Linked DNA regions of Homo sapiens. The protein of the gene in region 3 interacts with the protein of the main gene of each other region in a pairwise test. Each region holds a gene or a part of one and is shown on either strand. Other genes may lie near its edges. The genes, in order: FXR2, DLST, PRAM1, alpha-crystallin A2 chain, NEDD9, CDH1 and SH3RF1.

Region 1 (4,238 bases), on a different chromosome or scaffold from region 3:
CCCTGGGGTTCTTCTTGTCATTATCACCTTCCACTCGAACCCTCACCACACCAGATTTATCCACAATCTCCTGGATCACTTTCCCGTTCTTTCCAATCACTTTGCCTGGAATAGGTAAATGAGGAATTCAGCCTTTTATTTTTTTTAAGGAAATAAGAATAAAGCTGATACACCGTCTTCCAGCCTCATTTTCTTTATATGGATTCCATTTACTTCATTCTCCTGCTTCTAGGTTTCTGATGTGTTTTTACAGGACAAAATGTTACAATCCCTAGAAATTTATTCTTTCATTTTTATCACTCCCATTACAGACTGTTTCTCTGTCCTTGTGAAACTGGGAGTCCACAGGGAGGTGCCAATCCTGGATAAAAGCTCAGAATCACTGTAGAGAATCTTGATTCTGACCTCTAACTGTATATACACACCACCAACTCACCAACCAGGTTCCTGGGCACTTGCACTGAGTCCTCAGAAAACTCAAGGTAGCTTCGGGCCTGTCGGCAAGCCTCGGGAGTCTAAAGGAAGAACAGCAGGGAGTTGTTACTAAAACAGAAGACCAGCTGGATGTGGTGGCTCACGCCTGTAATCCCAGCACTTTGGGAGGCTGGAGGCAGGTGGATAAATTGAGCTCAAGAGTTCAAGACTAGCCTGGGCAATATGGTGAAACGCCATCTCTACTAAAAATACAAAAATCAAAATACAAAAATACTAAAATACTAAAAATACAAAATTGGTGGCTCACGTCTCTAATCCCAGCTACTCCGGAGGCTGAGGCAGGAGATTTCTTGAACCCAGGAGGCAGAGGTTGCAATAAGCTGAGATTGTGCCACTGCACTCTAGCCCGGGCAACAGAGTGAGTTAGACTCCATCTCATAAAAAAAAAAAATTAAACAAATAAATAACTTAAAAAAAAAAACAGAGGACCTTGGCCAGGCACAGCGGCTCACACCCATAATCTCAACAGTTTCGGAGGCTAAGAAGGGAGGATTGCTTGAGGCTAGGAGTTAACAACCAGCTTGGGCAACAGAGATCTGGTCTATTTTTTTGATTTTTTGGTCTCACTCTATTGACTATGTTGCCCAGGTTGGTTCAGTGGCACCATCATGGTGTACTGCAGCCTTGACTTTCCAGGCTCAAGTGATCCTCCTGCCTCCGCCTCCCAAGTAGCCAAGTAGCTGGGGCCACAGATGCATGCCACCACGCTCAGTTAACGTTTTTTGGTTTTTGGTTTTTTTGGGGGGTAAAGACAGGGTCTCTCTATGTTGTCCAGGTTGTTCTCCAACTCCCAGGCTCAAGTGATCCTCCCCTCTATCTTCCCATTTCAGCCTCCCAAGTACCTGCGACTACAGGTACGCACCACTACTTCCAGCTAATTTTTAAATTTTTGTAGAGATTGGGTCTCACTATGTTGCACAGGCTGGTCTCAAACTCCTAGGCTCAAGTGATCCTCTCACTTTGACCTCCGAAGGTGCTGGGATTACAGGTGTGAGCCACTGTGCCCAGTTTGAGGCTTATTTTCTACTTCGGCCTCTCTTCCCTCTATCCCCTAAGAGACCCAGAAGAAAGACATCCTTTGCTGACCTCCCCATAGATGCGGAAAGTGCAGGTCTCTTCACCCAACTCAATGGCGGTCACCCCAGGTACTTTTCGGGCCTGCTGGATGTTGGCACCGTGAGTCCCAATTGCCAGTCCCATCAGGTCCTCTCGCACTGTGAACTCCTCTTGGAAGGCTGCTGCCAACTGCTTGCTTGTCTGAAAGGAAAAGTCACTGTAGGAATCATGGTGGTAGAATCTCACAGTCCCAGGCACACGACCCTTTGCATAACTTAAATAAGGAAAACTGTGTGATATTAATAGAAAGCTAGAACCACTCTGGAGTCCGCGGACCACGAGGACCTGTGTGGAAAGGTCAGGAACTTTTTGTTTTTTCTTTGAGATGGCGTCTCGCTCTGTCGCCCAGGCTGGAGTGCAGTGGCGCGATCTCAGCTCACTGCAACCTCCGCCTCTCGACTTCAAGTGATTCTCATGCCTCGGCCTCCTGAGTAGCTACGACTACAGGTGTCCACCACCATGCCTGGCTAATTTCTGTATTTTTAGTAGAGACAAGGTTTCACCATGTTGGCCAGGCTGGTCTCAAACTCCTGACCTCAGGTGATCCGCCCGCCTCAGCCTCCCAAAGTGCTGGGATTACCGGCATAAGCCACCACGCCCGGCCAAGGTCAGGAACTTTTAATTCCACTCCTTCCAAATACCAGTGGTTTGTGGGGGAGGAAAGGTAAAGAGGGCAGAGTTTGGACTGGGACACACCGAAGTTCTGGATTTGGCCCTAACAGTATCTGTCCCTAAGAGTATCTATCTGTGTGATCTTAAACAAAACATACTCTGCCTCTTGTGTCATCTGCTAAGTGATTATATCCAACTTATCTTATTCTCAAGACTAGCAAGAGGATTAGACAAGGCTGGTGTGAAAGTACTTCTCACAAGGTACATGCAAGTGTAAGGAACTCTTACCTTAATCAAACAAATATCAACTCATCCCCAAATAAAACTCAACAACTTAAGTAAAAAGTGAGGGGTAGGCTGTGCGCGGTGGCTCACGCCTGTAATTCCAGCACTGTGGGAGGCTGAGGCAGGTGGATCACAAGGTCAGGAGATCAAGACCATCCTGCCAACATAGTGAAACCCCATCTCTATTAAAAATACAAAAATTAGCTGGCCTTGGTGGGGTGTGCCTATAATCCCAGCTGCTTGGGAGGCTGAGGCAGGAGAATTGCTTGAACCAGGGAGTTGGAGGTTACAGTGAGCCGAGGTCATGCCACTGCACTCCAGCCTGGTGACAGAGCAAAACTCTGTCTCAAAAAAAAGTGAGGGGTTAAGAAAAACAGAAAACATGCCTCTAGAACACCAGGCTTTCACTTCATTTCTCAATCAGTCCTTAGAGGAACCCCTGGGTTCAGGGGCAGGAAGACAGGAAAGGTTTTAGAGGAGTGAATCCCATGTTGTAAGCACCAAATAGAAACAATACCTGAAAGGAGACATTCCTAGATTGAAATACACTACTTCCCACTTCCAAGTTGGATAGGACTGAATTATACCAAGGATTTATACCAGGCAAGAAGAGAAAGTTGGAAAAATAAACTAAGTTGAGTGTTCAAAATCACTACATTAGGAGGGGAGGGGAAGAGATCTACAATGACCTATAAGCGTCTTCTAGATAAGCTTGCAGAACAGCTGGGTTTTCTTTTTTTTTTTTCTTTTTTTTGAGATGGGGTCTGTCACCCAGGCTAGAGTGCAGTGGCATGATCTCTGCTCACTGCAACTTCTGCCTCCCTTTTTTTGTATTTTTAGTAGAGAAGGGGTTTCACCATGCTGGCCAGACTGGTCTCAAACTCCTAACCTCAGGCAATCCACCTGCCTCGGCTTCCCAAAGTGCTGGGATTGCAGGCGTGAGCCGCTGCACCCGGCCCCTTTCCGGTTTTTAGAGGCTTCACTACTAGGCATGACTGATTAAATCACTGATCCTCAGTGATTGCCTTAACCTTTGGCCCCATTCCCCTCCCAGGAAGTTGGTGGGGGTGAGGCTGAAAGTTCCAACCCTCTAATCATGAAGCCACCTAGAGGGGCTAGCCATGAATCAACTCATCAGCACACAAAAACACACATCACTGGAGATTCCAAGGATTTTAGAAGTTGAATGCCAGGAGCCTGGTCAGGAGACCAAATATGTATCTCTCAGTATCACAGAGCCTGTCAGTCCTACTGGTTTTACTCGTAAAATTTATCCTACATAAAACTACTCTCTCTCTCTTCCTTTAGCACTCCAGTTCAAGTTTCTCACCTGGACTACTGTGCTCTGTTCCTGCTTCCATTCTTGCCCCCCTTTCCATCTGTCATTGAAACAGGAGTTTAAAACAGAAGGCACTTTCGGCCGGGCACAGTGGCTCTCGCCTGTAATCCCAGCACTTTGGGAGGCCGAGGTGGGTGGATCACGAGGTCAGGAGATCAAGACCATCCTGGCTAACACGGTGAAACCCCATCTCTACTAAAAAAAAATACAAAAAAATCAGCCGGGCGTGGTGGCAGGCGCCTGTAGTCCCAGCTTCTCGTGAGGCTGAGGCAGGAGAATGGCGTGAACTTGGGAGGTGGAGCTTGCAGTGAGCCGAGATCACGCCAATGCACTCCAGCCTGGGTGACAGAGCGAGACTCCGTCTCAAAAACAAAACAAAACAAAACAAAAC
Region 2 (4,238 bases), on a different chromosome or scaffold from region 3:
ACAAGAGGAAGAGGGGAGATCCAAGAGTAAGCGGGGTGATCTGGCTTTGAAATATGCTACCTCAAGAGATGGCAAACCAGCATCTGAAAATGTACACCTAGCAACTAATGGGAAAATAAAGGCTTGGGAATCATTTCCGCAGAAAGTCCATGTTGTATTGTTAGATAAGACATCCAGAGGAAGCATGTAATGTGAAAAAGAGGCCACGAGAACTTTTGAGAGCCGCCTACATGTGTGGGCAAGCAGAAGGGGGCCACTGAAAAAGATGAGAGCCAGTCAGGGAGGCATGAGAAGAATGGGAAAAAGAAGAGGTATACATTTGGGCAAAACAAAGATGGCCTTCTACCTCCCTAGAGCACCACTCAACAGGAGGGACTAGGGCTTCTACTTCTAGACCTTTAGGGCCCCTGACACTGCTGAGGATGGCAAAAGTAGCACTGACCCCTCTCCAATCTCCCAAGGAACAGAGAAGTGTGTCAACAGGAAAACAAAGTGCTTGTTAGGTCAACACTACAATGACGTAGGTAAGTAAAAAGGAAAGAAAATAAGCACCAGGTCCATGAGAGGCCAAGCCGAAGCTCCCAGTGAGGCCCATCGACCTAAGATCAAAGGTCAGCCAGGAGCCTACACCAACTGTGGAAGTCAGGCCCCAAGGTAACAGGGCCTGTGGAGCTGGGGGAGGGGAGGAAGCCAGAACACGTGCTTCCACCTTGACAGGAGACAGCCTGGAGAGCTGGGCTATCCCAGAACTGCCTGCTGCCTGAGCAGCTGCCGAGCTGTACACTGGGAAGAGAAACTGTTCTGCCCAGCTGGCGGGTAGAAAGTAATCATGATGCTGCTTCAGGAAGGTGAACCAAGAAATCCCTGGGGAAGATACTGATATTTCTATAGGTAGCAAATAAAAAGCCTTGGTCTGTTGATCCTCTGCATGTGGGAGCAGGTCTGTGCTCATACACCTACCTCCCAGGACCTCTCCAATTCCAGCCACAAGCAACTCACCTGCATTTACAACAGGCTGTTCCTGCAAGGCAAAGGCTGAGGCCTTCACAAATGCCGACATGAAGCCTAGTTTGAGGTTATGTTTCTTCAAAAAAGCCTCTTTGTGCCGAGCCCTCATCTCCTGGATGTTACTGTGAAAATATTACAAAACAAACTGACCACAAAGCCTGCATTTTGACTTTCACACAGGTTTCTCAATCCATATACACAATTAGGTGAGAGCTTTTCCCTCACTCTGGACCATTACCTTAGTTCAAGTTTTGAAATAGTCTACCTGAGGTTAACACAGTAACTCTGTTCTTTTACAAAGAAATCTACAGGAATCAGGCCCAATCTGTCTTTAAGGTGGGTTGATCTCTTTACAGGGCTCCTTCATGGTCTAGAAGTCACAGATTTCAGTGACACATCATATGAACAAGAGATCACACAGCACACCAACATCCTTGCCCTGAATAACTGAGCTATCCATCCTGAAAAAAAATTTTTTAAAGTATAAACAAAATCTACAAAATAAGCAATATTCTTTTTATTTCTTGTTAGAATACAAAAAAAAAAAAAAAACCCCACCAAATCTGAGTATAACTCCCGTGTGATATTCCTCCTATCTCTTGATTAGTGGAGACTAAAATAAACAGCTCATGGGTACATGAGGCTCCATGCGGGAAAAAGCAGTCATGACTCTGCAGGGAAGGGTATAACCCAGTGTTCTTTCAGGCCCACGGAAAGTCATATCCGTTCTTCATCTTTCCAGGGTTGGCAGTTCCATCCACTTATTCTTCCAAACAGGTACTAACACCTTACTACATGTGAGGGTCAGGGCCAGGTACCAAGATACAAAGCTAATTAAGACATAGTTCTTGCCCTAAGATTAGTTTAATGGCTGTGATTTCCTTGGTATTTAGAAAAGTGGCCACTTGTGGTTTAGGCTGGTTCCCTTCAGATTAAGCAGCAAGCCTTCTGAAAAGCCTTTACAACATGAGCAGCCTTTATTCTTTTGGGACTGGTTTTTTTTCAATGACACATTGCAGAGTTAGTGAGAAATGGCTTTCCCATCACTTTGCTGCATAAACCTCAGTATTTATCGGAATGCAGTAATGCAGTTCTACGATGAAAATTGAATTTAACTTTATCTCAGGGCCAAATGCTCAGTTCTCCCTTTCTCCCTCTAATGGCCTAATTCGACATTAGCATGAAAGGTAAGATGTGGTACAATTTTAACAGCCCCCTTCAGATCTTTTGTTTTTGAAAAAGGAAGTTTTTCCAAGGGGGACTGATTGGGTTTAAAATGCTTGTTTTCCTGATTCTAACCTTATTTAGTGCTAGGATTACCACCCTAAAGACATTACTGGTTCCCAAGACACAAGAGCTGCAGAAGAGGGAAAGAGATGTGATAAACATCTCTGCTCTCAAACCTGCCCAAATGTTATTGTCTGGTCATTAAGTAGCTTCTATTTCAGAGCTCTGCCCTTGGAGGCAAAGGCTGGGACAATAGAGGAAGGGAGAAGGTCTCAGAAAGGTCCCTTATGGGTTAGCTGATCAGCACAAGACCCAAAGGGCACTCGATCTAAACCAAATTAGGCTGCAGCAAGACCGCAGGCCATTGTTAAGTGACACCTTGATTAGCTGCTGAAAGGAGATCCAGCTATTACGCTTCCTTTCCAATCAAAGCTGTTGGGCCAACTGCATCTTTCAGGGCCACAAATATTTACATGTTTTGTCTTAAGAAACTGGGTAGAATTTCAAAGTCCAATTCAATTTGTGTACAATTTGGCCCTAATGCACTGAAACATAAGCTGCAGCCTTTGTGATTCATTAGTCAAGGTCCTTCCCCTACATCCTATGAACAAGAGAGAAATCTTTGGCTTGAATGTCATCCAGTCTCTTCGGAAAGTTTCCCAACAGAATGGATGACATCTAGTAAAACAGGTCACAGAGCCCTACTCTGAACAATGCCACAGCGCACTATCAAGAAAACACTCCCTTCTCCCTATTTTTCAAACCCTTTCCAAAGAAAAGCAAATTTCTCTAATGAAAAGTAGATTCGCAGACTAAACCCTCAGGACAAAAAGAAAGAAAGAGATGACCTGAGACTTGACTTGCTTCCTGAATTAAATATAAACTCCTACCCTGGCATTCAAAACATTCTGAAATAAGGATCCAACCTTCTTTACCATTCTTTGCTATACAAAATCCTCACAACAGAAATGATTTTTGACAATTTCTCAAATGTGTCTTCTACTTTCCCATCTCATGGTCTACACTGTTAACATCATCTGGAATGACCTTTCTCCACAAGGCTGACAAAATGCTAGTCACTCTTGAAGACCTGTTTAAAAATTCTTTTTTGGCCAGGAATGGTGGCTCATGCCTGTAATCCCAGTGGGAGACCAAAGCAGGAGGATGGCTTGACCCTAGACGTTCAGGAGACCAGCCTAGGCAACACAGCGAGACCTTGTCTCTACAAAAACTAAAAAAATTGGCCAAGCCTGGTGGCACATGCCTGTAGTGGTCCCAGCCATTTGGGAGGCTGAGGCAGGAAGATCACTTGAGCCTCCCAAGTAGCTGAGACTATAGGTCCATGCCACCATACATAATTTTTTTTTTGAGACACAATCTCGCTCTGTTGCCCAGGCTGGAGTGCAGTGGCGCGATATCAGCCACTGCAACCTCCTCCTGGGTTCAAGCAATTCTTGTGCCTCAGCCTTCCGAGTAGCTGGGATTACAGGCATACGCCACCATGCCTGGGTAATTTTTGTATTTTTAGTAGAGGCAGAGTTTCACCACGTTGGCCAGGCTGGTCTCGAACTCCTGGCCTCATGTGATCCACCCACCTCAGCCTCCCAAAGTGTTGCGATTACAAGCGCAAGCCACCGCACCCAGCCCTCACTTGGCTAATTTTTAAATTTTATGTAGAGACAGTCTTGCTATGTTGCCCAGGCTGGTTTCCAACTCCTAAGCTCAAGCGATCCTCCTTCCTCACCCTCCCAAAGCTCTGGGATTATAGGCACGAGCCATGGTGCCCAGCGTCTATCCCCACTGAATTCCACAGTACAGTACTCTGTATACAGTACGCACTCAAAACACGTTTGTCAAATTTCTCTTCCTGACAGTGCTGATACTTGAACACATTGAAATCTTGAAGAAAACAGGTAAGTCAACAATTAGCTCACTACAGAAATGGGCATACCTAGTGAATTAGTACCTTTGGTTAACATTCTAAGGTTATTTAAAAACACAAC
Region 3 (3,823 bases):
TATCTGGCGGGCACGATTCAGGTGCTGCTCCTTGGGCTGCTTGGAGGGACTACAGGCCTGAAATGTCCGGCGGGATACTTTGAGCCATTCGGAAAGGACATGCTGGGGCTCTGGGTTCTGGATCTTTCACTCACCAGGGTTCCTGGGGCTCCCACCTGAAGCCAATTCCTTGGCCAGCAGGGCTCTGACTTGGGAGCCTGGTCATTTGCCAGGAAGTGGCACAGGGAGACTGGCACCATGGGAGACCCCTCAGTCCAGAGTCTCATCATCAGTCACCAGTCCAGGACGCTTACCCTAGCAGCATCTTTTAAAAATTATTTTTATTTACTATTTTGAGACAGGGTCCTGGTCTGTCGCCCAGGCTGGAGTGCAGCGGCGCCATCTTGACTCACTGCAACCTCCAGCTCCCAGGTTCCGGCGATTCTCCTGCCTCAGCCTCCTGAGTAGCTGGCATTATGGGCGCCCACCACCACACCCGTCTAATTTTTGTATTTTTAGTAGAGACAGGGTTTCACCATGTTGGCCAGGCTGCTGTCAAACTCCTGACCTCAAGTGATCTGCCCGACTTGGCCTCCCAAAGTGCTGGGATGACAGGCATGAGCCACCATGCCTGGCCATGATATTTTACTGTCAACTATCATTGCCCTCCTGTGCAATGGAACACCCAATTTCTTCTTCCTAACTGTAACTTTGTACCCATGGGCCAGCCTCTCCTCATCCTCCCTTCTGCCTTAGTTTTTCACCCAAATCTCATTACAGTAGAACCCCAGAACCTACCGGGTGCAGTGGCTCAGGCCTGTAATCCCAGCACTTTGGGAGGCTGAGGCAGGGGCATCACCTGAGGTCAGGAGTTAGAGACCAGCCTGGCCAACATGACGAAACCTCATCTGTACTAAAAATACAAAAATCAGCTGGGTGTGGCAGTGGGTGCTTATAATCCCAGCTACTCAGGATGCTGAGGCAGGAGAATCGCTTGAACCCAGGAGGCAGAGGTTGCAGTGAGCTGAGATCATGCCATTGCACTCCAGCCTGGGCAACAAGAATGAAACTCCGTCTCAAAAACAAAAACAAAAACAAAAGAAACAAAAAAAAAAACGGCTAGGCACGGTGGCTCACGCCTATAATCCCAGCACTTTGGGAGGCCGAGGCGGGTGGATCACCTGAGGTCAGGAGTTTGAGACCAGCCTGGCCAACATGGTGAAACCCGTCTCTACTAAAAATAAAAAAAAAAATTAGCCGGGTGTGGTGGCATGTGCCTGTAATCCCACCTACTTGGGAGGTTGAGGGAGGAGAATCGCTTGAACCCAGGAGGTGGAGGTTGCAGTGAGCTGAGATCGCGCCATTGCACACTCTAGCCTGGGCAACAAGAGCAAAACTCCGTCTCAAAAAATAAAAAAGAACCCTAGACCCAACTTGCTCTAGGAGGCAGAAGTGAAATGGCCTCGAAGCCTACAGATAAATCCTGCCTTTACCATTTACCAGCTGGGTGACCTTGGGCAGTTTGCTTGACCTCTCTGAGCCTTTATTTCCTTGTGGACAAGTTGGGCATGACAGTGGCGTCTACTGGCATGAACAAGGTTGCTGAGAGGGCTGCCATGAGGGGCGTGGCCCAGCAGTTCCCACCATGCTGAGCACGTGGCAGGAGTTAAGGGAATGGAAGGCAATCCAGAAGAACCCATGACCCCTGAGAAAGGCTTGCGGAAGAAGGTGGGCAGGGAGAGGTTTGGGAGGGGACCTGGTGGGATTTGGGGAGTCCTCAGAACTGACACAGGGAGGCCTTACTCAAGATCCAGCCACCTGCCAGGCGCAGTGGCTCACGCCTGTAATCCCAGCACTTTAGGAGGCCGAGGCGAGTGGATTGCCTGAGGTCAGGAGTTCAAGACCAGCCTGGCCCACATGGTGAAACCTGTCTGTGTTAAAAATACAAAAATCAGCCAGGTGTGGTGATGGACACCTGTAATCCCAGCTACTCGGGAGCCTGAGGTAGGAGAATCGCTTGAACCCAGGAGGCGAAGGTTGCAGTGAGCCGAGATTGTGCCATTGCACTCCAGCCTGGGTGACAGAGCAAGACTTCGTCTCAAAACAAAAACACAAAAACAAACAAAAAACAGCTACCAGGGTAAAGGCTGAGCCGGCGGGCCCTGCCTTGACTCGGAGTCCTGACTGTCCCCAGATGAAGCGCCCTCAGTTCAGCAAGCCGCCAGGAGGCCACCACAAGACCCAGCGCTCAGGTGCCATGGGCAGAGGGGGTGGGCAGACGGGGGGCGAGCTCCAGGAACCCCCAGAGGAGCACAACTTGCTCACGAGCACACAATTCCTTGGTGGGGGCTATCAGGAAGGAGAAGGATCCCCAGCCACAGCAGTTGCCACCCATGGACCCAAAGTTGCTGAAGCAGCTGAGGAAGGCAGAGAAGGCCGAGAGGGAGTTCCGGAAGAAGTTCAAGGTGAGGCCTCTGAGCTAAGCAGGAGTCCTGGCAGGGCGGAGACCAGGGTCCCACCGATCCCAGGCTCAGAAAGAAGACAGGGGCCCAAGGGCGGCAGCACAAGCAGAGGCCCTAACATCTCGCGCCCCAGTTTGAAGGGGAGATCGTGGTTCACACGAAGATGATGATCGACCCCAACGCTAAGACACGTCGCGGGGGTGGCAAGCACCTCGGGATCCGGCGCGGGGAGATCCTGGAGGTGATCGAGTTCACCAGCAATGAGGAGATGCTGTGCCGGGACCCCAAAGGCAAATGTGAGTGCGCCCGGCCCCGCAGCCCCGGGAGGTCCCCGCCGCCACCCTGGGCCTCAGAACCCACCATGCCCACTCTCTCCACAGATGGCTACGTGCCCAGAACAGCGCTCCTGCCCCTGTGAGTGCCAGCCCTGACCGTGGTGGGGGAGTGCGGGGTGTGTGGTGCAGGGTGGGGGGAATGGGCCACGGTGCCCCTTGCTGACCCAACTGTGCTCTGCCAGGGAGACGGAGGTGTACGATGATGTCGACTTCTGCGGTACGTGGACACTCTGGGAGGGCTGGAGGGACCCTGGCGATTCCCCGGGGGCGCTGCTCACTATTGGGCTTCTGGGGAGAGGGGTCCATGGAAGTCACGCTTCCTCGGCAGATCCCCTGGAAAACCAACCACTCCCCCTGGGACGGTAAGACCGGTAGGCGTGGGGCCAGGACAGCCAGCCAGCCCAGCGCCCGCTCACCCAGGAGCCCTGGATCCCGGCGCGGGAAAGTCACAGAGCTGCCTGGGCTTGTACCTGGCCACATAAAGCCCCAGTTTAAAGCAGTCCCTGCTTCTTGTCTTTTCTTTCCCTCCTGATTGGCACACAGTGGAGCAAAGGCACGGGAACCCCCTGACCAAACACAAAAGGGGGTGTGTCTGGGGTCACCCTGCCATGGTCTCACCCCTCAGGGATAAAAGCCAGTGGGGAGAAAAGGGTGGCAAGAAGCTGGTGAGCAAGGGGGGCTCCGGGTGATCAGAACAGCATGTGCTACCAGGCAGGCAGCCGGGCAGGACGCGCCCCTCCACAGCCAACAGAACAGCAGCAGCCAGGCCTCCTTGCCAGGTATGCACACCTGCTTGGCCTGAGTGGATCCTGAGAGCGCTTCACTGGGGGAAGGGGTGGGGCCTATACCCAATTCTGACAGAGCCCAGGTATCAATCAGATTTGGCCTGAGCCTCTGGCAGGACTGAACACGCATGGAAGGTGGCACACAGTTTGGTCTGTTTCAGCAGGAAAAAAAAAAAGCCAGAGAACAAGCCTGACTCAGGCAGGGCCTGTGCCCCAGGGCGTTAACTTCACAACAGGGAGACAGGATGGCTTTCGGGGGGCT
Region 4 (4,131 bases), on a different chromosome or scaffold from region 3:
CAAGAGGTGTGAGTGCCTGGACCTTGCTCTGCCCCATGTCTGAGGACCTTGCCCTGCCCCGTGTCTGAGGACCTTGCCCCATCCTCGGCACCCAGAGCTGTGCAGTCCATAGGACCAGGCTGGTGCCCAGCCCCAGGTTGGTGCCTCAGCTGCCTCCTCAGCCTGCAGTCTCCACTGTTTGACTGACCATGTGCAGGGCCAGCTGTGAAGGACAGCACAGCTCCTCCCTCCCTGCCAAGTGTCAGGGGCACTAAAAACACTGCCATCAATGTTCTGATGTTTAAATCATGTTTTGATGCAATGTTTAAACAAATCAAAATGGGTCGGGCGCAGTGGCTCACGCCTGTAATCCCATCACTCTGGGAGGCCGAAGCGAGTGGATCACCAGAGATCAGGAGTTCGAGACCAGCCTGGCCAACACGGCGAAACCTCATCTCTACTAAAAATATAAAAATTAGCTGGGTGTAGTGGTGTGTGCCTGTAATCTCAGCTACTTGGGAGGCTGAGGCAGGAGAATCGTTTGAACCCGGGAGGCAGAAGTTGCAGTGAGCTGAGATTGTGCCACTGCACTCCAGCCTGGGCGACAGAGCGAGACTCCATCTCAAAAATAAATAAATAAAATAAATAAGTAAATCAAAATGAATGCAAAAAATTTGTGGTGGACAAACTGTCAACATTTTACATAAAGCCAGGATGAGGACGACGGCCTTCTCCTTTTGCTTCAAGCTCCAGCATGGCTCTGCCCAGCACTGACCGTGCTCCTGGCCTGGCTCGACCCTCCCCAGGGCCAAGCTCCATGCTGGTTTCCATCCCAAAGGACTCTTCTTCCCCCTCCCTGTGCCCCGGGAATAGGCAGCCAGCACAGTGGGGCCGCCCGCTGCCTCACCCAGACCCTGCCACTGCTTGGATGTTGACCCCCAGACTGGAAAGGTGGCTTTAAACCCCCTTCCCTTCTTCCAAGCCAAGTGACCTGGGTGTGCGGCTTAACCTTCTAAGCTCCCATTTCCTGGTCTATGAAGCGGGAATGATGCTGGGACCTGCTTCACAGGGTGGCTCTGAGGACCCACAGGCAGAGAGGTCTGGTGTAGGCTTTCGGGGGAAGCACCCATCACTCTCCCAGCGTTTCCTATCTGCACCTTAATTTGGCACCCCAGGGAATCGCTCCTCTGGAATTGTAACCTTGCAGGGCAAAAGCTATCATTTCAAGATTTTTTGGGATCCTGTGTCCCCGGACAGTGCTGTAAATGTAGGAGGAAGGGTGCTGCTCATGGGTGCTGCTCATGATGGAGGTGCCCCGTGGAGCACGCCTCGGAGCCCCCCCTTTCATCCCTGATCCCATCTGGGATGTGTCAGGTCTGATCCGCATACACTGGGGCATCTGACATTTCATGGCCTTCTGAGCCCATGGGCTGGAGATGAATTTGCAAAGCCCGGGAGTGTCCTGGGTGTGTGTTCACTCCACACGCACGAATCTGTTAGAGGCTGAGTAGGAACTAGGAGGCCAAAGAGAACCAGGCAACTTCCCACAGCCTGGACCGTACACTAGAAAAGCTAGCCTGGGAGAGGGGGCATGGCCTCTTCCCAGGCTGGCAGGGGGGATGTGGGGGAGGACCATGCTCCCCAGGGCCAGTTTACCAAAATATCAAAATACCAAAATATCAAAAGACTTAAAACTAGGAGTGAGCCAGGTGCAGTGGCTCACGCCTGTAATCCTACACTTTGAGAGGCCAAGGCAGGTGGGTCACCTGAGGTCAAGAGTTTGAGACCAGCCTGGCCAACACGGTGAAACCCTGTCTCTACTAAAAATACAAAAATAATAATAATAATAATAATAATAATAATTAGCCAGGTGTGGTGGCAGGCACCTGCAGTCTCAGCTACTCAGGAGGCTGAGGTGGGAGAATTGTTTGAACCTGGGAGGCAGAGGTTGCAGTGAGCTGAGATCGCGCCACTATATGATCTGGGCGCCACTCTGGGTGACACAGCAAGACTCCATCTCAAAAACAAACAAACAAAACCGGGAGTGCCTGGACACTTAGTGAGAACTGGACAGGGGCCATGGGTCGAGGAGCAAAATAATCACCAGGACTTGTGGATAACAGGATCATGTGGGTGGTGGGTCCGCATGGGTGACAGGGACGTGGGGACATGTCGCCACCCTGACAGGAGCAGCCCAACTCAACAGCCACGGCAGGTCATGCCACGGAGGCTCGAGGCGTTACGTGGGGATGTTACATCAAGGCATTACATCATTACGAGATGTAACGCTCGAGGCGTTACATCGAGGGGATGATGGCCATGGGGCTGGGCGTCCAGGGTGGGCCGCAGAGGGAAGCTCACCACGTGGTGCTCTCATCTGCCCACAGCCCAGCCCGTCTTCCTGTTGGAGGCATGTGACCCCTGGAGGACAAGCATGAAACGCCATAGGGCTCCCCCAGGTGCTGGAATTATGGCACCTTGCAGCTTCTTCTCCACGAGTTTTAACAAGCATGCGTACTTTTGTAAGTGGTGAGTGTAACGGAGGTTCACAGATGCACTCCGCTTTGGAAACCAGTGCACTCTTGCCCAGGCCCGGTGAGACTCTGACGACGATGTGTCTAACCTCTGTGTCTAACGGGGGTGTGGGCTCTCCCTCCTCTGGCGACCATGAGGACCACCCCGGCAGGACAAGGTGTGCAGAGAACTAGCATGGTCCCTGGCACGTAGCCCCTGCCCAGTGACTGGCAGATGAGAAGCTCCATTGTCGCCCCAGGCGAGTATGGGGCACAGGCGCCTCCTTGGGTTGTCTGCCCTCCCGGGAGCCCCAGGGTGCCCAGGCGGGCCTCAGCTGAGTCCAGGCCTCGGGGACAGTCCGTGCAGCCCCTCCTGGGGCTGGGGGCGGGCACTTGTCCCAGCCACGTTTCTGCTGACTGAGCAGCCTTCTTCATGAGCTCACGCCTTTCCAGAGAAATCCCTTAATGCCTCCATTCTGCTGGTGGCATATATAGGGAGGGCTCGGCCTTGGCTCCACACTGCGCTGCCCAGAGGCCCCGCTGACTCCTGCCAGCCTCCAGGTCCCCGTGGTACCAAAGCTGAACATGGATGTGACCATCCAGCACCCCTGGTTCAAGCGCACCCTGGGGCCCTTCTACCCCAGCCGGCTGTTCGACCAGTTTTTCGGCGAGGGCCTTTTTGAGTATGACCTGCTGCCCTTCCTGTCGTCCACCATCAGCCCCTACTACCGCCAGTCCCTCTTCCGCACCGTGCTGGACTCCGGCATCTCTGAGGTAAGACGTGGCCCGTGGTGCTGGCCTCTCCTCGCTGCTCAGAGGGTGGTGGCCTCGGTGGGTGGAGAGCGATGGACTCTGGTCTTGCTCCGTCAGGCAGGTGGCCTCGTCCCACTTCATCCCCTTGCAGAGGCTGGGCGAGAGCCTGTGTCCCCACTGCAGCCACGTGGTAGAGCTTCCCCTGGCACTGGGGAGAGGGTGGACAAGGGAGCAGCCTGAATCCACCTTTGCTTTCCTCCATCAGCTCATGACCCATGTGTGCTTTGTAAGGCACCAGCCACATACTGGAAACCCCAAGAGCAGCCCATCCAGGCATGCGTGGTGGCGAATGCCAGCTCCCGGGTTCCTCTGGTCTCCTGAGTCCCGGAGACCTGGGAGCAGGTGGGGGTCATAGTCCTGAAAGCCAGAGAGCAGGGCGTTCCTAGCACCTCCTCCAATGAGCTCGGCCTGCCCACGGCTAGCAAAGCTCTTGGCAAGTTTACTTAGGTGCCCTGCCAAGGCTAAAAGGACAGGCAATGGACGCCCCCCCCCCCCACCCAACCACAGGCCTCCTCTCTGAGCCACGGGTGAGCGGTGCAGGTTCTGCTGTTCTGGAGGGCCTGAGTCCCACCCAGCACCTCATAAACAGGGTCCTCCCCAGGGCTGCTGCAGTAGGCATCAATGCCAGGGTGCAAAATGCCTCAGGGAGCCAAGGCTGAGCCAGGGGAGTGAGAAGGAGCATGTGGAAGTGCGTTTTGGAGAGGCAGCTGCGCAGGCTGTCAGCAGGCTCCGGCCGCTTCTATAGACAGCATGACACCAAGGGCAGTGACCTCATTCCACAGGCTGAGTCCAGCCAGCCAGCCAAGCATCACCAGCCAGACGATTG
Region 5 (4,238 bases), on a different chromosome or scaffold from region 3:
AGAAAGAAATCTGAACAAATTGGTTTGAAATGCCAACCACTAGGACCAAGGCAATACTCTGCAAGAACATATAGGCTGAATTACCAGGACTTCTCGCCAAGACAAATGAAACAGGGCCATTGGGAAGAAATACTATATTTCTAACTTAAAATGCCAGAGAGTAACTGACGGTTTCCTAGGTGATAGATGGTTGCAAAGAGTACGGGCATGAAAAGGGGACACACACACACAAAAAAAAACCCTGTTTATACTTTGCCAACAACACCCCCCTCCATCTTATTTACTTTGAACATTCCAGCCATCTCTCTGCAGTAATTCCTGCTGGCTAATGAGGATTCCACACAGCTAGGGAACATGACAGCCTGCAAAGGATTATTTTCCTGAACAATCTGCATTTTAAGATAAGTCACCTTGTTGGTAACCTTTTGTACCCTTCATTGGAAAGGGTGACTCTCTTTGAAGACAGTTTGACCAAACAATGAGATCTAGGTGAATTTGAGGAAGATAGAACGGGCACTCCAGAAATATGGATAGTGGTGGAGCTGACAGCAGTTTTTCATGGTTGACGTAGGGAGTGGAGGCAGCTGTCATGGAGATATTAAAGTTGCCAGTGGAATGTTTTCCAATACATATTCCTGGGCCCCACAATGGACTATTAAATCCCAGTTATTCTTTAAAAAAAAAAAAAAAAAAAGGCCGGGCGCGGTGGCTCACACCTGTAATCCCAGCACTTTGGGAGGCCGAGGCAGGCGGATCACGAGGTCAGGAGATCCAGACCATCATGGCTAACACGGTGAAACCCCGTCTCTACTAAAAATACAAAAAATTAGCTGGGCATGGTGGTGGTCACCTGTAATCCCAGCTACTTGGGAGGCTAAGGCAGGAGAATGGCTTGAACCCGGGAGGCGGAGCTTGCAGTGAGCCGAGATTGCACCACTGCACTCCAGCCTGGGCGACAGAGTGAGACTGTCTCAAAAACAAAACAAACAAACAAATAAACAAACAAACAAAACAGCTAGTCTCTTTCTCCCTAATCCCCTCACTAACCACTACTAGTGCTTCTGGTGCTTACACGGTGTCTAAGTAGGTAGTTCATGATCCTTATTCAAAGGCTGGATCCAGTGATTTGTAAGTGTCATGTTTCTTTGCAAATCTCAGTCTTGCGAATTAGAATTCCCCCTGATATGTCTAACATATCAAGGTAATAGTTATATGATGTTACTAAAAATGTCCCTCACATGAAATGTTATGTTTATGCCCACAGGAAACAAAGATTTAGCAACAAATATGTAAAAGTGAAACCATTTCAAGCAACAAAAATATTTGATAGCCCTTTTGAAATTAATTTGAATTCCTTTTTTTACTGTGTGTATGTGTGGTTGGGGGGCAGGGGGGCGGTGGATGGATTAATTATCTGTGAAACCCAGTAGAAAGTTGCAGTAACCAAAACACGTGTAAAGTTCAGATTTGAACCAGATCTCCTGTCTACTTCTTAAGGCATTGTGCATTTAGATAGTATATGTCATTCATGTTTTTCCTAGGTTTTATTGGTCAGGCAGAAACACTGTGCTATCTCTTGGTAACTATGAGTTAGCCTTAATCTCAGTGATTCATGACAGTCCACTTGTTTTCCTTAATTTAATGCCTCACTCCCACAGGAGATGAGGCTAACTGAGGACTCATCTAGAGGACTCTTTAAGAATGAGCTGGGCTTTTCTGCCCCCCAACACCCTCCGCCTCCCAAAATAACCATAACAGGCAAAGCCAGCACACAGAAAATGGCAGTAAGTGGACTTCTAGACACTCCAGCTACTTCTGAGTCTTCAGTGTCAGGACACATCAGTCATCTGTCGATGAGATTTTTTTTTTCTTTTCCTTTTGTTCTTTCGTTCTTGTTACTAGTCACTGTGGCATGACTGAGAGTTTGGCAGGAAATGGGTTCGTGGACCTGTGGTACAGTCGCACTACCACAGCAGCATTGGCCTAGCAAAATGTTGAGCCCTCTTTCCCTTGCATGCTCCCCTGGGGCAGAAGTCCAGTGCTATCTCCGCTTCCCTGACCCTCTCCACTCAGAGCCCAGCATGACAAGCACACCTTTAAATGGGTTCAAGGAAGGGAATAGCAGAAATGAACGCAGCCCGACAGCCTCCTTTCTCTTGATAACCCCTGTCACTGTGGAGCTGGACTTCTAGGCTATCTCACAGAGGCCCAGAGGCACTGGAATCGATCTCATTTCCTTACAGACATCACCTTGTCAATTAGAGAACACATAACGTTGATTGAATTTAAGATTCTTATCAGTGCCTAGCTCTTTTTCTCCCAAATCCGAAATTCAGCCATGGCAGATCCATAATCAAGAAATATACTTACATTCCCATCCTTTGTTGTTGGTTTCAAAAATATTTCTTTTTTGTGAGTATGTATCCATGTTTTACAAACCAAAAAAATGGGACATATGGTCTGACAAAGGGAAGGATATTTGAACCTGGGGACTGCCTGGGAGAGTCCGGAAGCACATGGTCACTCTAGAGACTGTCATCAAGGGCTGCTCCTGAGATTAATCCACTGTCGAAGGCATTATCCCATCTCCCTTACAGCAGCCTTTTGCAGGAAACTGTCTAAGATGTTGTGCTTTTTTTTTCATTGACTTGTAAATAACAAGGTGCTCTCTTTCCTTTTCTTTGCAGAAATAGGCATCTTTAGAAATAAAGCCATGCCCATTTTGAAATAAGAACTTGTTTGGAACACCTGAGAGTGTTAAGCAGTGCGGGGGATTTGCATCCAATTGTTCTTGCTTTAAACCTGGCATGGGCGCTCTCGCCTCATAGCCCGCAGCACCTGAATCAAGCCTCCTGCCTCCCTTATTAAGATCTTAATTACAGACTCAGCTTAGTTCATTGCTGAAGGGAAAGAATTTCATTTCTCTGAAGTGTGTCTGTTTTTTGGTGTGGCAGGTGTAATCATGATAAGATCATTTCTGGGTTTTTTGTTTTGTTGGTTTTTTTTTCCTAGAGGAAGTTTTTTTTTCCAAGGGGAGGAGTACAGTTCTTAAGACACAATTTCATGAGCTCATCTTGGCGCAGTAATAATAACTGTGCTTTGATTTTATAGAGACTCTTTTTCCTGAAGAAATCAGAGCATTTGGAGTAAATAATCTCATGATTCCTCATATTTTTATAAAGAAGAACATGTCTATTAATATTTATTTTGCAGACAGGGAAACAGAGGCACAAAAGGCAGAGATTTGATGGTCATTAGTCTTCAAATGTGAAGTCTGAAGCTAGACCCTCCTAATTCAGTCTGGTGTCCATTCCTCTATCCAGGGTTTCTCAACCTTGGCACTATTGACACTTAGGGCCAGGTCATTCTTTGTGGTGGGGGCTGTCCTGTACACTGTAGGATGTTTAGCAACATCCCTGGCCACTCTACCCACTAGATGCCAGTAACACACGTGTGCATGCATGTGCACATGCACACACACACACAGTGACAACCAAAAAATGCCACTAAACATTGCCCGTACCCAGAGGGGACAAAAATCCTCCTAGTTGAGAAGCAGTGGTCTAATCTCTTCTACTCCTTCTCCTTAAAAATAACTGCCCTACTCAAAAATACCCCCATAGAACTGACTGCCATAATTTTATCATTACTGATATTGAGCTTAATGTAACAGGTCCTAACCAAAAAGCAACTTCCTCTTACAGGCCTAGCCCCAGTTTGTTTCAGTGAATACCACAAAATACTAAGAAGCGCAGAGTTTCATTCAAGTCAAATGTAAAACCCATCAAACCATCTCTAAGGCAACTTTAAAGTATTTCTCTGGCTTCTCTCTCTACAATATGTACCTCATCATGGAACATGCATTTAGAGCTGGGTCTTTAAGAAAGCTATTTTATTCTCATAAACTGGTGTATAACATGTGCGTGTAAGAGCTTGTCTCTCCACCTCGGCACTGAACAATTTCACAATGAAGGTTTTTTGTTCCCTTTGCTCCTGCCACCTTTTCCCTGTCTTCTAACTAAGAAGCTGCAGCTTCAAAAACTCTTCCTTGAGACAGCTTAGTGGCTGCATTGCTGACAGTGTATGACTGTAAACACCTCTCAGCCAAGTGTGTGAATCTGTTTTCTAAAACTCTCTGAGGACCTCACAAGTGAAGTAGATAATACCAATCAGGCACCAAATCCAGGTCAAGTGACATCTAAAAGAGTTCCAGGGAGGGTTGCATCCTATTTACATCA
Region 6 (4,238 bases), on a different chromosome or scaffold from region 3:
AATGGCTATATGCCCTCCCATTTCCAGACTCAGGTTTGAGATCTCCCTGCCTGCCCTGCACAGCTGTTCAGAGGGAAGCTATGAACACAGTATCCCCAGCACACACAGAGCATAATGGAAGGTTCTAACCCACCAAATTCTTCCCCGCCCATTTACAATCAACCTTAAGGGCTGGACCAAGTCCATAGAGTTTGAGAGGGAAAAATATTGGCCAAGATAGCGATTTATTCATGTGTTCATTCATTTGCTCAAAATAACATTGAGAGTTTACTGTGTCCCTAAGAAATATCAACTACTGTTGAAAATATTCTCTCTACTTTCTCTCTTTACATTCCTGCCCATTGGCATGTATGTTCCGTCCAATCTGCCGTAACCTCAGGGTCTAGCCTGGTGCTAACACACAACAGGCACTCACTTTTGTGAACTAAATGAATGTACATACTTAATTCTCATAATAGATCAATAAGTATTACCGCCCCATTTTACAGGTGGGGAAACTGAGACTCATAGAAGTAAAGTGACTTATTCAAAGTCAAATAGCTAGTGGCTAAAATTCAAACCTAGTTTCCTGTACTTCCTCGCTGAAGGATCCTAAACAGCCACTGCTGAATGATTTCATTCTCCTTTTTGAAAGCCTTGTGCCCTCAAAGGAGATAGAGCTGAGGCAGGATAGAAACCCAGGAAGGGGCCCGGCTCGGTGGCTCACGCCTGTAATCCCAGCACTTAGGGAGGCTGAGGCAGGTAGACCACTTTGAGCTCAGGAGTTCAAGACCAGCCTGACATCATGGTGAAACCCCGAATCTACTAAAAATACAAAAATTAGCTGGGCATGCTTCTGCGTGCCTATAATCCCAGCTACTCAGGAGGCTGAGGCTGGAGAATCACTTGAACATGGCAGGCGGGGGTTGCAGTGAGCTGAGATCCTACCTCTCTACACTCCAGCCTGAGCGACAGAGTGACACTCCGTCTCAAAAGAAAGAAAAGAAAAGAAAGAAAGAAAGAAAGAAAGAAAGAAAGAAAGAAAGAAAGAAAGAAAGAAAGAAAGAAAGAAAGAAAGAAAGAAAGAAAGAGACCCAGCAAGGATTGGATTGGGACAGGTGCCTCTCGGGGATTTTAGGGTTTGGGCAGCTTCTGGGAGATACGAGAGCTTCAGCCTCTGGCGTATCTGGGGCTACCTTGGAAGGGAATGTGTAACAGACACAAGGTGAGCATTTTGGAAGAAAAGCCTCACCCAATAAAAAGCCCTGGAGAGCAAACAGGGATTTCCATAACCACCTGGCAGAGAGGGGCAGGCAGGGCCCCACTGGGAGGAAGCAGCAGCCTGCCTTCTTTACATGGCCTTGCCGGGCCCAAGACTTTCCACCTCCGCACCTCCAGAGACACAAAGGCAAGGCCAGGAGGGCGGCCCACTGGTCTTCTTTCCCAGTAAGCTCAGATCAACCTTTGTCACAGACATGAGTAATTGGGGAAGTGACTTTTATGAGTTTGAGGGGTAGGGGGTGGGGATCTGATGATGTAAGGTGATCCCAAAGCTGGTTTCTGGGTTTGCTTTTTAAAAGTCTAATTGTATTAGGGAGGCTGCATACTGTTTTCTGAAACGTTCAGCACATCCTTCAGAAAGGAGGGGAAATGGCCGGGCACAGTGGCTCACGCCTGTAATCCCAGCACTTTGGGAGGCCAAGGTGGGCGGATCACCTGAGGCCAGGAGTTTGCCCAGCCTGGGCAACAAGAGCAAAACTCCAGATTGTAGACCAGCCTAACCAACATGGTGAAACCCTGTCTCCCATCCAAGTACTAGTACTAACCAGGCCCGACCCTGCTTAGCTTCCGAGATCAGACGAGATCGGGCGCGTTCAGGGTGGTATGGCCGTAGTCGAAACCCTGTCTCTACTAAAAATACAAAAATTAGCCAGGCATGGAGGCACACACCTGTAGTCCCAGCTACTAGGGAGGCTGAGGCAGGAGAATCACTGGAACCTGGGAGGCAGAGGTTGCAGTGAGCCGAGATCACGTCACTGCACTCCAGTCTGGGCAACAGAGCGAGACTCCGTCTCAAAAAAAAAAAAGGAGGGGAAATGGGTGTATTTAATCCACAAAGTTTGGGTGCCTGTGAACTAGGTCAACCCCTCAAGCAGCCAAACCTCAACACTGAAATATAGGCCCTGTGTTTCCAAGGCCAGATTGCAGAGCAAGCAAAGGAAGAAAACAATCACTGGGAAAGCCTGCCAGCTTTTCTTTTTTCCGCGCCTGAGTCAACTTACAGCTGTGGTTACTAGGCTAATACTTCAGAGATCCCAAACTGTCTAATAGCCTGGGTTTCTCAGACCGGTGTGTGCTATGAAGAAGGAAAATAAGCAGCAACTCTAAAGGACTGGGTTATTAGCCAGGCATGGTGACTCACACATGTAATCCCAACACTTTGGGAGGCCAAGGCAGGCGGATCACCTGAGGTCAGGAGTTTGAGACCAGCCTGACCAATATGATGAAATCCTGTCTCTACTAAAAATACAAAGGCATGGTGGCATGTGCCTGCAATCCCAGCTGCTCAGGAGGCTGAGACAGGAGAATTGCTTGAACTGAGGAAGCAGAGGTTGCAGTGAGCCGAGATCGCACCTCTGCACTCCAGGCTGGGCGGCAAGAGCAAAACTCCGTCTCAAAACAAAAACTGGTTTATTACAGTTGAGTTTGGTTTTTTTTTTTTTTGTAAAGGTCTTCATTCTAGAAGCTGGAGATAAACCAATGGAATAAATACAAGGTTGAGATCATGGGGTCAGCCACAGCATGGGGCAGAGGAATGACCCTAGCAAACACTCCAAAGTCCCCTGAGTTAAGACCCTACAGCTGCCTGTGCACAAAAAGTGACAGGTTTCAAGTTTCAAAATTCCCATGGAGTAAATTCTCCATGAAGCCAATGTCTAAACCTGGTGCCAATGTTACATCCATCCCTTCACTTCCGTGCACTGTCCAAAGAGAGTCAGGCCACATCCCAAGTCCTAGCGGCCTTTTAAAATCACAAGCCAGTTCCTCAGATTGAACGTGTGATTTTACCAGAAGGGCACTTCCATCCTGGGGCGACTCCACATTGGACTGATACAAGGAGACCCCACAGTCCAAAAAAGCCAAAACAAATATTAAATGTCAGGAAATCTGTTGTGTGGGGGTGGGGGTCTGTGAACATAAAGGGAACTGAAACCAACCACACCAGAGGCCTGCGGATTCTGTGTGAAGGCTGCCTCTTCCCACTAAATCACCAGTCCCAGGGTCCCCCGCCACCTCCCCCGGGTCTGACCCATCTCCATCATCACCACCCCCTCTCGGAGGTCCCACCCTGTCAACACCTCCATTCTCAGCTTACTTCACATTGGACACTAATTCCCCAAACACCTTTTTTCTTTGTTTTTGTTTTTTCAGGTTATTGAGGTGAAAAACAAGGAGAAAAAGGAAGAGAAAAGACCAACTGCGGATGCTTCAGATTACAGAATTGCTTTATGCCTCAGTTTCCTCACTTGCAAAGTAGGAAGAATAACAGTGCCCACCCTCCTAACGTTCTAGTGAAGACTAAATGAGGTAAAATATGTGAAGCACTTGCCCCAGAGTCTGAGGCAAAAGTGAATACGTGTCACTATTAATTATTAACATATTAGTGTTAATATGTAATAATATTATTGGTCAAACACAGGAGCTTAGAAGGGAGAAATAAAAACCAGACCAACCCACCCTTGGTGCTACCAAATATCTTGGTGCAGGAAAACAAAGTCACCAGCCTTAGCACTGGGACACCCCAGACGCATGCTCAGATACAAGCTTGTTTCTAGCCCCTGCCTTGCTCTCCAAGACTGGATCAAGTTTGCCTTCCCCGAGAAGCCACTCCTCAATGCCCACTGACATCAAAATATCCAATCCCCAGCACTCTGGGAGGCCAAGGCGGGTGAATCACTTGAGCCCAGGAGTTAGAGATAACTTCTGATCCAATAGAAAGCTCTAGAGCACACAGAGCAAATATACTTCATCAGTCGAGCTGTAGTTTCTCTGTAAAAAACTTCGAATGACTTCCAAAGTTCAAAAAAAAAATGTAAAGACAACAGCGTGATTGCTAAAGATTCATGTGGTCAAAGACTGGAAGAATGACACAGTGGAGGTGTTCCCTCAGGGGAATTGTGGGTGATTTCTCTTAAAAAAAAAATGCCTCTTATTGTGATACCCAATCAAGTAAAATCATGAGAGAGGAGAAAGTGGTT
Region 7 (3,837 bases), on a different chromosome or scaffold from region 3:
TTTCTCTGTGTAGTAAATCAGACAGTACAAGGCACACCTTATACATCCGAATCCAGACTAACAAAACCCACACAAACATCTTCTTCATTCTGCTCGCTGGGGTAACTGTGCTGGGGCATCAGAGTCACATACCAATCCTTTGCTCATCTCCTGACCATCTGGAAGTCCACAAATGTGCTCTTTCTGTTAAACTGCTTTGTGCTACTTTGTTGTGTGAAGTGATTTTAAGCTTCTTCAGTGTCAGTCTCCTCATATGTTTTCCACAAAGCTTCCTGGGAAAAGGCCAGTTTTCCCATTACGTTGTAATGTGCCTTTGAACCAGCCATCCTCTCGTTTTTTATGAACAAACACAATATCTCCTTCTTTAAGTTCAAGTTCTGCCTCACTCTGAGGAGGATAGGAAACCACCACCCTGTGCCTAGAAAAGAAAGAGATTTTGGTTAAGGCGATTCAAAGCAGTGATTTTAAAAAATGGTGTACTGTTAGTCTGCACGAACCTTCAACATAAATAGGAAATAACATTAATTCATTTATGATTGTAAAACAACTCAAAATACTGCTATTTTCTGTTTAGTAGAGACTTAGTACTAACAAAGACTGGATTTGGATATGTGTGTCAACCCACTACTGATGGCCCAGACTGGTTCATCTGAGTGACCTTAACAAGGACAGCCATCCTTGTTCCCTACCAGTGTTTGTATCTTGGCCATAAAGGAGAGTTTCATTTCATTTCCCGAGAGGGGTATCATTTCTATCCCTCCCTCTTCTCCAAGGAAACAGGAGTGAATTTATTTGATTGGTGAGACTGGGAGAAGTAGCTGAGCAGGGGGGGTTCAGTCCTCTCTGAACCGCCTGCCCACAGGCTAAGGAGGCTCTGCTCCACCTCTATGTTGTAAGCACACAGAGGTCAGGAAGGTGAGTCTGGAAGTCTGTCTCTGTGTCCCTACGTCCCTTACACTGGTGTTTGACATGGGCGAGGCAGCAATTCTGAGGAAGGTAATCTGCCCCACATACCCAGATTATCCCTTGGGAAGGTAGTCCCAAGGTCCAGACATGGAGGGGAGGGCTATGGCCACAAGTTCAATCCAACATTACCAGTAACGAGGTTGACATTCTCATCTCTATTATTCTGACATTTGGGTCTGTTTCTCCTTGGCTCAGAATTTGGAGTTAGTGGGAAAGGTGTCATTATCGCTTAAAAATGGCAGAAGCTTAGTTGGTTTAATATTATCTGTGCCCCTGCCTCCATGCTCCTTAGCCTTCCTGTGCAGAATTACAGCTTGTAGGAAACGAGAGGGAGGTGACTTGTTTTACACTCTATATCCTTTTATCTTTCTCTATTTTTCCAGCATTATTTGCATTACTCCTCTTCTCAACAAAAGGGGGGAAAAGAATGGTGGTGTATGGTAGCCAACCTCCAAGATGGCCCTAGTGATCCTTGCTTCCTGGTATTCACACTCTTGTGTAGTCTCCTCCTATGATGCACAGGATGACCTGTGTGGCCAATAAAATGTTGCAGAAATGACAGTGGGTGATTTCTGAGGCTAGATCATAAAAGGCATTATGGCTTCCACTTTACTTTCTCTTGGATCGGTCACTCAGGAAAACTGGCTGCCATGTTGTGAGGACACTCAACATCTCTATGGAGAGGAAACACATGGTAAGGCACTGAGGCCTCTTTCCAAAAGCCTAAACTAACCAGAAAAAGTGATGTGAATAAGCCATCTTAGAAGGGGATCCTCCAGCCCCAGTTGAGCATCAGCTCAGGCTGATGTCTTGACTACAATCTCAAGAAATACTCTAAGCCAGAACCAACCAGATGAGCTGTTCCATAATTATGTGACCCACAGAAAGTGTGAAATAATACATGCTTATTATTGTTTTAAGCCACTGACTTTTGGGCGTAACTGGTTACATGGCAACAGATATCTAATAAATACATCTTTCACTGTTTGATGCTAAGTAATGAGTAGTCAGTCATAAAGTTGATTTTGGGTTTCTACTTTCATTTGGTTCTCAAAGTCAGAAAATGAGTGTATAGCCTCGTGGGACCCACTCCTGACTGAAAGTGAAAAATATTATGGCTTCAAAATGATAGGCAGAACAAATTCTATACAACTGTCCCCAAACTTCTGAAACCTATTACAGCCTGCCCCTTTCACCAATTCCCATTCCATATAAACCAAAATCCATTTAAGAAAGACCACAGCAAGAGTCCCAGACTATTACACTAAAAAAACACATCTCTGCAAAAGGTAAGTGGCTGCTTGAACAACCTGAGCTCCTTTGGCACAGGGACCAAATTACTACCCAAGATCTGAAGCAAAAGCACAGCACAGAAGTTGGCTTATCATATCTGAGAAAGGTTCAGCTAATTCAAACATGAATATTCATAGACCACAAGGCTGGGGTTTGATCAAGCATGGAATGAGGAAGGAAGCATGACACAGCGGGAGAAACACTGGCCTAAGGATTGACACAGTCTTTAAGGTCAGTTAGAGCAGCTTAACTTTGGGCCAGTTATCTCAGCTCTCAGTCTGTTTCCTCATCTGTAGAATAGGACTGTAATGAGTTAAACAAGTATGATGCTCTTCGTATGGTGTCTGACAAAGAGTTCAACCTGAAAATATTAGCTCCCATTATGATCATATGGCTTAGACAAGAGTAGGCAGAGGCCTGGCACTTCAAGGAGGTGAAGAATGGGCCAGTCAGTGGCTGGACATCTCTAACTAGGAAACGAACTCAGGCCACAACTCAGGCCTCATTTCCTGAAAATGAGATTTGACAAACTTTAGATCAACACAGTTAGGGTTTTGGAATCCCTTCTTTGATATCTTTATTTTGAGACGGTCTTACTTTGTTGCCCAGGCTGGTGTGCAGTGATGCAATCACAGCTCACTGTAGCCTTGACCTCCCAGGCTTAACTGATCTTCCTACCTCAGCCTTCCGGCTGGGACTACAGGTGTGTGCCACCAAACCTGGTTAATCTTTTTACTTTTTGTAGGGATGGCATCTCACTATATTGCCCAGGCTGGTCTTGAACTCCTTGGCTCAAGCAATCTTCCAGCCTCAGCCCCAGAAAGTGCTGGGATTATAGACATAAGCCGCTATGCCCAGCTCTCTGACACCTTTAAAAGCAAGACAAATAATTTCATCATGAATTTATCTGAAAGAAGGATCCAGATGACATTTCTCAAGTCTAATGTCAACATGCTAAAAATCCATGAAAAAGCAATGATGTAGTTGCCATGTGGGGCAAGTTAAACATTTAAGGCAAAGCTTTATAATTCTGGGAAAAAATGTACAAGTGACTCAAAACATATTCAGAGTAGACTTCTCATGAGATATATTCCCTACTTGTTCTCTGTGAGCTGCCTTAAAGGTGAAATGGAATAAAAATGGTTATTGAAAAACTTGAAGTGAATTAGATTAATATATGCATTTTATAAAATGCACTAAACCAATTTTGTCAAAAAAAAATTTTGAACTAGAACTGCTGCTGGGCTAAGAACATACTCTTCCTGCCAAGTTCCCAGTGGGAGCAAATTTTCATTGCTAAGTTTTATAAACCTCTGGGGGGGCGGGTGGAATGAGAAACTATGTGCATAATGGAAACTGTGACACAGTCTTGATCGTATGAAGACTACCAGGTGCAGGAGTAATAGACTCTACTTAGAAATCTTCCAGCTCAGGTCCTGATCTTGAGCCTTGTGAGGTGGTTTGCAGTTTTCTAATACAGATTTGTAAGGCCAAATACTGGGCATAACTGGCCAACTATTTCAGGCATTGAAAGGCTTTGCCAAGTAGAACATTTACAGACCAACAAACAGATGTAAG

The links.
Region 1: the proteins of PRAM1 (region 3) and FXR2 interact in binary tests that used the Homo sapiens proteins (3 or more experiments, as listed by UniProt).
Region 2: the proteins of PRAM1 (region 3) and DLST interact in binary tests that used the Homo sapiens proteins (3 or more experiments, as listed by UniProt).
Region 4: the proteins of PRAM1 (region 3) and alpha-crystallin A2 chain interact in binary tests that used the Homo sapiens proteins (3 or more experiments, as listed by UniProt).
Region 5: the proteins of PRAM1 (region 3) and NEDD9 interact in binary tests that used the Homo sapiens proteins (3 or more experiments, as listed by UniProt).
Region 6: the proteins of PRAM1 (region 3) and CDH1 interact in binary tests that used the Homo sapiens proteins (3 or more experiments, as listed by UniProt).
Region 7: the proteins of PRAM1 (region 3) and SH3RF1 interact in a two-hybrid assay, tested with the Homo sapiens proteins (one large-scale study listed by BioGRID).

The regions. Positions count from the first base shown.
Region 1 is NC_000017.11:7,594,243-7,598,480, forward strand, and holds part of FXR2 (RNA-binding protein FXR2), read right to left. Parts: intron 1,753-4,238; coding exon 1,582-1,752; intron 516-1,581; coding exon 437-515; intron 106-436; coding exon 1-105. UniProt on the Homo sapiens protein: mRNA-binding protein that acts as a regulator of mRNAs translation and/or stability, and which is required for adult hippocampal neurogenesis. Specifically binds to AU-rich elements (AREs) in the 3'-UTR of target mRNAs.
Region 2 is NC_000014.9:74,895,261-74,899,498, reverse strand, and holds part of DLST (dihydrolipoyllysine-residue succinyltransferase component of 2-oxoglutarate dehydrogenase complex, mitochondrial isoform 1 precursor), read right to left. Parts: intron 1,131-4,238; coding exon 1,000-1,130; intron 1-999. UniProt on the Homo sapiens protein: Dihydrolipoamide succinyltransferase (E2) component of the 2-oxoglutarate dehydrogenase complex. The 2-oxoglutarate dehydrogenase complex catalyzes the overall conversion of 2-oxoglutarate to succinyl-CoA and CO(2).
Region 3 is NC_000019.10:8,489,508-8,493,330, reverse strand, and holds the end of PRAM1 (PML-RARA-regulated adapter molecule 1), read left to right. Parts: intron 1-2,173; coding exon 2,174-2,231; intron 2,232-2,335; coding exon 2,336-2,444; intron 2,445-2,574; coding exon 2,575-2,737; intron 2,738-2,821; coding exon 2,822-2,855; intron 2,856-2,958; coding exon 2,959-2,993; coding exon of another isoform or gene 2,994-3,104; coding exon 3,105-3,142; 3' UTR 3,143-3,275; downstream 3,276-3,823. UniProt on the Homo sapiens protein: May be involved in myeloid differentiation. May be involved in integrin signaling in neutrophils. Binds to PtdIns(4)P.
Region 4 is NC_000021.9:6,557,706-6,561,836, forward strand, and holds part of alpha-crystallin A2 chain, read left to right. Parts: intron 1-2,366; 5' UTR 2,367-3,077; coding exon 3,078-3,266; intron 3,267-4,131. UniProt on the Homo sapiens protein: Contributes to the transparency and refractive index of the lens. In its oxidized form (absence of intramolecular disulfide bond), acts as a chaperone, preventing aggregation of various proteins under a wide range of stress conditions.
Region 5 is NC_000006.12:11,222,257-11,226,494, reverse strand, and holds part of NEDD9 (enhancer of filamentation 1), read left to right. Parts: intron 1-4,238. UniProt on the Homo sapiens protein: Scaffolding protein which plays a central coordinating role for tyrosine-kinase-based signaling related to cell adhesion. As a focal adhesion protein, plays a role in embryonic fibroblast migration.
Region 6 is NC_000016.10:68,740,114-68,744,351, reverse strand, and holds part of CDH1 (cadherin-1 isoform 1 preproprotein), read right to left. Parts: intron 1,874-4,238; exon of another isoform or gene 1,779-1,873; intron 1-1,778.
Region 7 is NC_000004.12:169,096,270-169,100,106, forward strand, and holds part of SH3RF1 (E3 ubiquitin-protein ligase SH3RF1), read right to left. Parts: intron 419-3,837; coding exon 250-418; 3' UTR 1-249. UniProt on the Homo sapiens protein: Has E3 ubiquitin-protein ligase activity. In the absence of an external substrate, it can catalyze self-ubiquitination. Stimulates ubiquitination of potassium channel KCNJ1, enhancing it's dynamin-dependent and clathrin-independent endocytosis.